2 separate regions of the Homo sapiens genome follow, and region 2 is linked to region 1. Evidence: fine-mapped expression QTL. A gene starts in region 1. The other region holds a variant in brackets. All regions are shown on one strand. Distances are between the middles of the regions.

Region 1 (4,397 bases):
CTGCAGTGAGCTATGATTAGGCCACTGCACTCCAGCCTGGGCAACAGAGCAAGACCTTGTCTCTTATAAATAAATAAATAAATGAGTCCCTGTCAAGAAGTTGGAGATGGGGAGGGGAACTCCTCACATACAAATAATTATATTGCATGCTGCACTGTAGTAAAAGGAGATATACTAGGCACAAGGGTACCAAAGCAATCCAGGGGAAAAAGGAAAGGTTGCCTGAAATAAGTAATACCTCAGTTTTAAAGGATAAGAGTTTATTTCCAGAGCGGGAAAAAATGCTGTTCCAGGCAAGGCTAGCTACTTATGTAAAAGGAGGGAAGAGTGATGCAACAAGGTGGTTTTGGGGACATACAATTCAGCATTGTCAGTCAAAGCCCCAAATATAAAACTACAGAAGGAAGCAGAGGGCAGATCACGCTTGACAGTATTTAACTGGGGAAGCTAGGGCTAGGTCCTATCTGACTTTGTCAGTAGCACCGCCTCTTACTTACAGCAATTACTTAATGTCTATTTATTCAGCAAACCATTAACATCTCCAGTGATTTCGGTTTTTGCCCTCTTCTGCTCACTCACCAGTCAAACAAAGAAGAGAACTAAGAAACTTGGCTACTAACCCCCTCTAACATGAGCATATTCGGAGTGATCTTGATATGGCGATTACTCCAATAACCTAATGGGTCTCCAGTTTTCATTCTCCAATTTGTTATCCACCACAGTAACTATGATTTTTTAAAGTGCACATCAGATTGTCATATTTCTGCTTAAAATGATCCAATGGCTTCCAACCGAATCATTTTAAATTGATTTGGAGTACAATCAAAACCTCCCAATACAGCCTAAGAGGTCCTGCCCAACGCCTGCTCCTCCGATACCATCTCTTAACCACTATTCGCGCAAGTGGCTATACCTTTCTGTCAATTTCTCCAAATGACCAAGCTTTCTTTCCGGCCGCAGGTCTTATGCTCCTATTCCCTGTGCTCGGTACACTCCTCCTCCTGCTCTTTAAAGGGTCGTATTTCATGACACTTAGGCTTCGAGTTAAATTCCACCTCCTAGGGAGGCCATCTCTGACTAAGCCTCTAATGTCTAACGCGCACCCTCACAGCCTCCTGTCTGCATTGTTCTTAGCACTTATTATTTGCAATTACATACTTGTTATTTTTTGACTAATGTCTGTCTTCCCCACCCAAGTGAGTTAATCTAGAGCATGGCCGTATCATTACTTTCACGGAATGAAAGTGAATTCTGGAGTGTGGTTAAGTGGGAAGTGCAAATTCTCTTTGACTTTTACCCCGACCCTATAGCCCCAACTAAGAATACCCCAGGCCCGGATTCAAACAAAGAGAAGAAGGCACGGGCACTCCTAGGAAAAGAAAGGCATCGGGAGGAGCACGCGCCTCAGAAACCTAAAAGCAGAGTGAAAGGAGCTGGCGACAGGGTGCGCGGCGCCTCACGCGGATGAATGGGAAACGCGCGAAGGAACCAGCAGGCCCCGCGAGGCTGGTCTCCCTCCTTCTCTTTCTCCCCGCTTCTCCCGCCGTTCTCTTTCTCCTTACCATCGTAACCACGGCCGAATGTTGCAGGCTACTCTCTGCCGACCAGGCCGCCGCCCGTCCCTCGTGACTACAGCAGGTACCGCAGGTCCCGAGCCGCAGTTTCAAGAGAAATGGCCGCCAAACAGGACTATGACCTTTCACCTCCCACCACGGCCCTTCCTGCCTCTGTGATTGGACGCAAAGAGGTGCGTGCTGATTGGAGGAGATGGCTGGCCCAGTATCTCCTAGCAACCAGCAGCGGCTTGGGTTTGCGCCTTGCAGGCGGCGCGCGGACCTTGGGAAACCGGCTCTGAGCATCGCTGTGAGGCAGCCAAGGACTGGAGGCAGGCCGGTGTTTTTAAATGTGGTGTCCTTCCTAGAGGGCGGTCTGGGAGAGGCTGTGTAACGGATGTGACTTCTCCCCAACTTGGCTAATGGGGATTTACTTTGTCTTTTTACACCCGTGAGAATGTTCGGGGTCCCAGAGTTCCTTCCTCACTCTTCCAACAGGTTCCATGATTTGGGGGCGCCTCTGCCGCAGGCCCTTTCTACCTGAGTGTTCTCTCTTCTGCAACACCCGTTTTAACCCCTTTTAAAGGAATTGGGGGCTAGCCAGACTAGACTAGGGGCGGCGAAACGCACTGAAGAGAGTTGGATACAGAATTTCTTGCAAACGAGGTCGAGTTGCGTCTGGGATACGGTGTCATGCCCCACCCCCGCCCCACGACCCTGCCGGCCCCACCTTTCTTTTGCTTCGCCTGCAGAAACCCGCACGGCCTTCATACGTGCATTTGAAATTACCTAAGGGCGTAAGCAATATTTCCTCTGTCACGGATTAAAACTTTCGATGTAACGGTGTTATCTGAATCTCACTAGTTTTTGTCGTAATCCTATTGAGTTCGGGTCACTCTGATCTGAAATGCTAAATGCAGTTCTTGGAGAACACGCCCTTTGGGAAGTAACGCTTTTTTGCGGCCCTGAAGAGATGGATTTGGAGTTGAGGATGAAATGTTGGGTGTTGAGGCATTGTGGAGCAGTGGGCAAGACTTTGGAGGGGGCCTGCATTCGGAACCTGCGTCTATCAGGCGCGGCCGGTGTTGGGCAGTGTCTTAACCCCGAGGGCCATTGTTTCCTCGGCAGGAACGCGGCTTTAAAAACGGAACCATCCTCAGGGTGGTTGCGAGAATTTAACGTAAAACGGGGCTTGGCCTTGTAAAAGCTCAGTGTTTCACGTAAATGTTGAACACTGACCAGACAATGATTGTCAGTGTAGTTTTTACCAAACAGTTATTAGATTTATTCACCCTAAACTTCAGTGGATTTCTCCGTTTGTCTATTGTTTTATGAACTTTAAGTCTTTGTATAGACTTTGAGTTCCTACTATGTGTCAGGCTTTTTCAACAATCGTGGAAATCTTACCTTACTGTCTGATTCGGGGTGACAGCCCCGTTTAAGAGATGAGGAAGTAGGCCCAGCAGGTAACTGTTACCAGTTGAGGGTAGCTGTCCGAGTTCTTGGCGTTTTCAACAAAGAATTGGACAAAACGCACAAACAAAGCAGGGCAGCGAAAGCAGAGATTTATTTTAAATGAAAGTACACTCTACAGGGTGGGCACCGCCTGGTGCAAGCGGCTCAAGAGCATTGGTTATAGAATTTTCTGGGCTTTAAATACCCTCTAGAGGTTGCCCATTGGCCCACAACCAGTCTGATTGGTTGCGGGAGGGGACCAATAAGAGGTACTTTCATTTTTCAACTGCCACGCAGAAAAAGGAGGGGTTGAAATGGGAGTAGCCTCTGATACCCAGTCAGCATGGATGGGCCCTAGGTTCCCTGCTTCCAGCCGCTATTCTTCTGCCTCATAGCTTGCTCAGGACCACATACCTGGGTTTCAAAACTCTGCTTTTTCTACTTCATGAAGCTACCTTTCAAAGACTCAATATGTGTTTTAGAAGCCTGACTCTTTAGCTGTTTTCTCAGTGAAGTGAAACGAAATACTACAGTAAACACATTCTGTAAAGATAGTGTATTTAAGGTTGGTTTTTCTTTTCATGTTAAATTTTTTTTTTAATTTGAGACAGGGTCTCATTCTGTCACCCAGGCTGGATTGTAGAGGTGAGATCTTGGCTTACTGCAGCCTTGACCTCTTGGGCTCAAGAGATCCTCCCACTTCAGCCTCCCGAGTAGCTGGGACCACAGGCATGTGCCACCACACCCAGCTAATTTTTTAATTTTTTTTGTAGAGATAGGGTCTCGCTGTGTTGTCCAGGCTGGTCTCAAACTCTTGGGCTCCAGCTGTGTACCCACCTTGGCCTCCCAAAGTGCTGGGATTACAGGCGTGAACCACCATTCCTGGTCCATATTAAATTTTAATCTTAAATACCTTATTAAAATTAAGTGGGCATAAGTCACTGATATTTGTCTAATTATAAATATTATACAAAATTTTGGAAAATGTAGAAAGTTCTAAACAATAAACCTAAAATCACTAGTAATCCCACCAATCAAAGAGAACAACAATTAACTTTTACTGTAACATATGCACTTTTTTTTTTACAAGATATCTACAGTTTTTTGTTGCTGTTGTTTGTTTTTTCTTTTTTGTTGTTGTTTTGGAGACAGAGTGTCACTCCGTCACCCAGGCTGGAGTTAAGTGGTGCGATCTCAGCTCACTGCACCCTCCGCTTCCCAGATTCAAGCAATTCTCATGTCTCAGCCTCCTGAGTAGCTGGGCTTACAGGCATGCAGCATCACGTCCAGCTAATCTTTTGCTAATTTTTTTTTAATTTTTAGTAGGGATGGGGTCTTACCACTTTGCCCAGGCTGATCTTGAACTGCTGAGCTCAGGCAGTCTGCCCA
Region 2 (4,397 bases), 26 kb after region 1:
TGTATGTATATATGTATATGTGTGTGTGTGTGTGTGTGTGTGTGTGTGTGTGTGTATATATATATATATATATATATATATATTCCTCCATTTCTCTTCCTTGATATGTATGAAAGAATTGGCTTTTTAATTCACTGCTGGATATCCAGTGCCTAAACAAATGCCATGTACATCATATGCAATAATTCTATTTTTAATGAATAAGTAAAAAAAGGGATTGGTAATCCTACTAGATTGTGTACCAGTCAGATTACCTTTGAAGTATTTTGGTCAGGCCAGGTCCTACTTAGAGAGGAATATATCCTTGATAAATATGAACAGTATATATATAGAGGAATATATATATATATTCCCTTGACCATTTTAAGGAGAAAACACTTATTGGGATGTAGAGGTGATGCAAGTGTCTGATGGGTAAAAAGATTCTGAAGGTTTCTTTCAATCTGGAGGTCTTATGATTCAGTAAATATATTAACATGGTTTTTATGGTTTTTATTTTGATAATTTTCCTACTGGTTCATCACCAGAGAAGGGGCCAACATAGGGACAAAGAAGAATATCGTGATCTAATATAAAATAATACACATTTTGAGGGTAGCCAAAAGTTTTGCTTACCAGAAATGGTATCTTCCATTCATTTCCTAGAAAGCTAGAAAATTTACCATTCAAAATTAATTGCTTTAGGTTGAAATTGACAGTAAACCTTCTATTTATTCAGGGCAATGCTCAATAGAAAAAAATATAAATATAGGGTAACATCAAGTAAGAAAACAATCTAATTTTAGAAAAAAAAACTTAGAGAAACTATCCTAAATCAATATAGCTTAATATTATTGAGTTCATGGAACATAAATAAAATAAATGTTAAGGAATATATTAATAACCTGGTATGATCAGTAAGCTCCTTCCTTTCTCCCATCTTTTATCTTACTGTTTCTTCTTTCTATTTCTATCGCTTCTCTCCTCTTTCTTTTCCATTCTTCAGTAAGTACCCATTTATCACTGGCTACTATAAGCTCTGGGAATACAATGATTAACAAATAGAGACATGGTTCCTTTATACTTGGACCTAGCAGGAGCCAGTTAACAAAAGGAAGAAAAAAAGACTTTCAAGACCAAGAAAGGAAGGGGGAGTAGAAAAGCAATGAACAGAAGGAAAATGGGCAACATCGTTTGCTTATTTTTTTTCTACCTTCATCCCACTCCATTCCTTGTATAGTTTTTCTTGCTGGGTGCCATCTTCTTTCAACTTCTGATAAAACCCACTGTAAGGCAATACTCATCCAAGTGTTCTTCTGATTGGATAGCAAGTTCATTTATTTAATTATTTTCAATAAATTATTTTTAAATATGATCTTTTTCCCCAGGAAAAGAGGAAGACAGTAACTTGACAGTGGAGAAACCTGGAAGCCATTGCCTTAACCGAGTCATGAAGGTTAGTGTTATCGGTGATGTCCTCAGGGTATCATGTCATCTGCCAGATTTCTATTCTTTCCCTGGGCAGTTAATGATGAGCTAACTATCTTAGAAGTCAAAGGAAATTTTTGTTTATGAAGAGACTTTGAGAAGTCTTGGGGCTCTCTTGAGTGCTACTCGCTTTCCCCTGAAATCCATTCCTATCCCATCCCTGCCCTCTGCTGGGTCTGCTCTCCGTCACTTCGACCTTATTTAGGGTTTGGCTTACTGGTTGGGGCCACTTCCATCACCACCATGTTTAACACAAGTTGCTTGATTGCTTTCATTTAAATTATGGAGTATTTCAAACTGCACAAAAATGCCAAAAATAGTATGACAATGTAAAACATACTCCATCCCTGATTTAAAACGCTGTAACATTTTGCCGTATTTGCTTTGCCCCCTTACCCTCAACTTTTAAAAAAGATATAGAAGTCCCACATCTACATCCCATTTCTCACCTGTCTCTTTGAGGACTACAGGCTATATACCTGGAGTTGAAATTGACTATACCCATCTTCAACTTTTCTAGATATTGCTGAATTGTTCTTTAAAGTTAGTTTATATTAATTGGGGTTCTCCAGAGAAACAGAATCAAGAGGATAGAGATATAGAGATATGGGTATGGATATGTATATAGATGTAAATCAGATATAGATTTATTTTATAGAATTGGCTAACATGATTGTGGGCATGGTGGGGTGGGCCAGCAGGCTGGAGATTCAGGTAAGAGTTGTTGTTGTAGTCTTGAGTTTGAAACCTGCAGGGCGGTCCAGCAAATGGGAAACTCAGGCAGAGCTTTGATGTTGGAGTCTTGAGGCAAAATTATTCTTTATTGAGTC[T/A]TTTCTCCTAAGCCCTTCAACTGATTGGAAGAGGCCCACCCACATTATGGAGGGTAATTGACTTTACTCAATATCTATTGATTTAAATGTTAATCACATCTAAAAAAATACATTTGCAATAACATTTAGACTCATATTTGACCAAACAACTGGGCACCTCAGCCTAACGAAGCCGACACATAAAATTACCTATAATGGCTGGCACAATGGCTCATGCCTGTAATCCCAGCATTTTGGGAGGCTGAGGCGAGTGGATCTCTTGAGGTCAGGAGTTTGAGACCAGCCTTGCTGACATGGCAAAAACTCATCTCTACCAAAATTCCAAAAATTAGCCAGGTGTAGTGGTGGGCACCTATAATCCCAGCTTCTCGGGAGGTTGAGGCAGGAGAATCACTTGAACCTGGGAGGCGGGGGTTGCAGTGAACCGATATCATGCCACTGCACTCCAGCCTGGGTGACAGAGCGAGACTCCATCTCAAAAAAAAAATTAACTGTCATAGGGTTGTACCAGTTTATACTCCCACCAGCACCTTTGAGAGTTCTTGTTGTTTGATACCCTTACCAGTCCTTGGTACTTACAAATGTTTTAATTTTGCCAATCTGCTTAGTGTGAATTGGTATCTTGTTGTAATTTGGATTTTTTTATTTTCCTGACTACTAGAAAATTGAGTATTGTTGTGTTTGTTTATCGGTCTGAGTTTTCTCTTCAGTTGATTGCCTATTCAAATATTGCTCATTTTTATATTGGGTTCTTTGAATTTTTCTCATTGACCTATAAGACTTTATAATTCTGGATAAAAATACCTTGTAGATTATTATAACTTTCTTTTCCTAGACTAATGGTTCTCAACATTGGCTGTACATTGGACTCACTTGGGGAGCTTTTAAAACTCTAGGTACCTTGGCTGTACCTTCAACCAATTAAAACCAGAATTTGGGGAGGTGTAACCTAGGATCAGTACTTTTCAAAGCTCCTCAGGTGCTACCTGTGTGCTTCTGAGAAACACTGTCCCAGACTAAGGCAGTAGGGTCTCTGCCATACAGAAAGTTTTAATTTTAATGTTTTTGATGCCTTAATTTTCTTTTATAGTTTCTACTTTTTGTTTTCTTTAAATTTTTCTATACCTGATGTCATTAAAATATTTTACTATATATTCTTCTCCCTATCTCTTTTGTGTATTAAAATTCTTACAGTGTTGTGACAAGGATTTTTCTACACAGATGACTAAAAACTCTTGTTTTGACAGATTGACAACCTCCTTTTTTTTTCAATTTGTCATTGCAGAACTAAGAAAAGGTAATTTTAGTAAAAGTTGTGCAAAATACTTATTTTTATGATGTGGCTATAAGTGAGAAGGAACCGTTGATTTTAATCATTGCATTCCAATTTTAGAGCTTCATTTTCTTTTGTATTAATATCCAAACTTTTGAAGGGTGGTGGTTGGATGATGTGCTCTAATTCAGCTTCAGTAAGAGTTATTAATCATATGTGTGGTTCCAGTGGAAGTATTTTAATTACCATTGACTAAACTGAGGATGAAAAGCTACTGACAAAAACAGAAAGTTAAACTACTTCAGTGAAGTGACTAATTATTGCTGGCTCTAACTGTGGACACAAGTAGGATTATTGTAAAGTAGGGAGATGGTGGATCTGAAGAAGCCTAGGATGAGGTAGCACTAGATAGATCTTATTTGTGGAGCATTGTTGAGTGTGCACTTGCATCTTTCTTTGTGACTAGAACCAGAAAAAGTAAATACATCTGTGATGGTTAATATCGAGTGTCAACTTGATTGGATTGAAGGATGCAAACTATTGTTCCTGGGTGTGTCTGTGAGGGTGTTGCCAAAGGAGATTAACTTTTGAGTTATTGGACTGGGAAAGGCAGACCCACCCTCAATCTGGGTGGGCTCCATCTATCAGCAGCCAGTGCAGCCAGAGAAACATGGAAAGACTAGATCTAGCTTAGTCCTCCAGCCTGCATCTTTCTCCCATGCTGGATGCTTCCTGCCCTCAAACATTGTCTTCAGCTTTGGGACTCGGACTGGCTTCCTTGCTCCTCAGCTTGCAGACGGCCTATTGTGGGACCTCACCTTGTGATT

The links. PIP is the estimated chance that this variant, and not a neighbour inherited with it, causes the effect. A credible set is the group of variants that fine-mapping cannot tell apart.
Region 2: its variant is the best candidate, but not a certain one, in a credible set for the expression of SNRPF in putamen (GTEx, PIP 0.63).

Annotation. Positions count from the first base shown.
Region 1 is chr12:95,856,242-95,860,638 of GRCh38, reverse strand. SNRPF (small nuclear ribonucleoprotein polypeptide F) reads right to left here and starts at 1,687. Exons shown (of 4, transcript NM_003095.5): 1 at 1,563-1,687. The coding sequence starts at 1,565. It overlaps SNRPF-DT (SNRPF divergent transcript), which reads left to right and starts at 1,800. Exons shown (of 3, transcript NR_135014.1): 1 at 1,800-1,885. RefSeq lists enhancers at 1,365-1,414, 1,445-1,674, 1,795-1,854, 1,905-1,964, 1,363-1,978 and 1 more.
Region 2 is chr12:95,830,055-95,834,451 of GRCh38, reverse strand. SNRPF-DT (SNRPF divergent transcript) reads left to right here. Exons shown (of 3, transcript NR_135014.1): 2 at 1,368-1,435. Among named protein-coding and RNA genes, the nearest start is that of SNRPF-DT, 27 kb to the left of the region's middle. The variant T/A (reference allele first, on the strand shown) is at 2,298.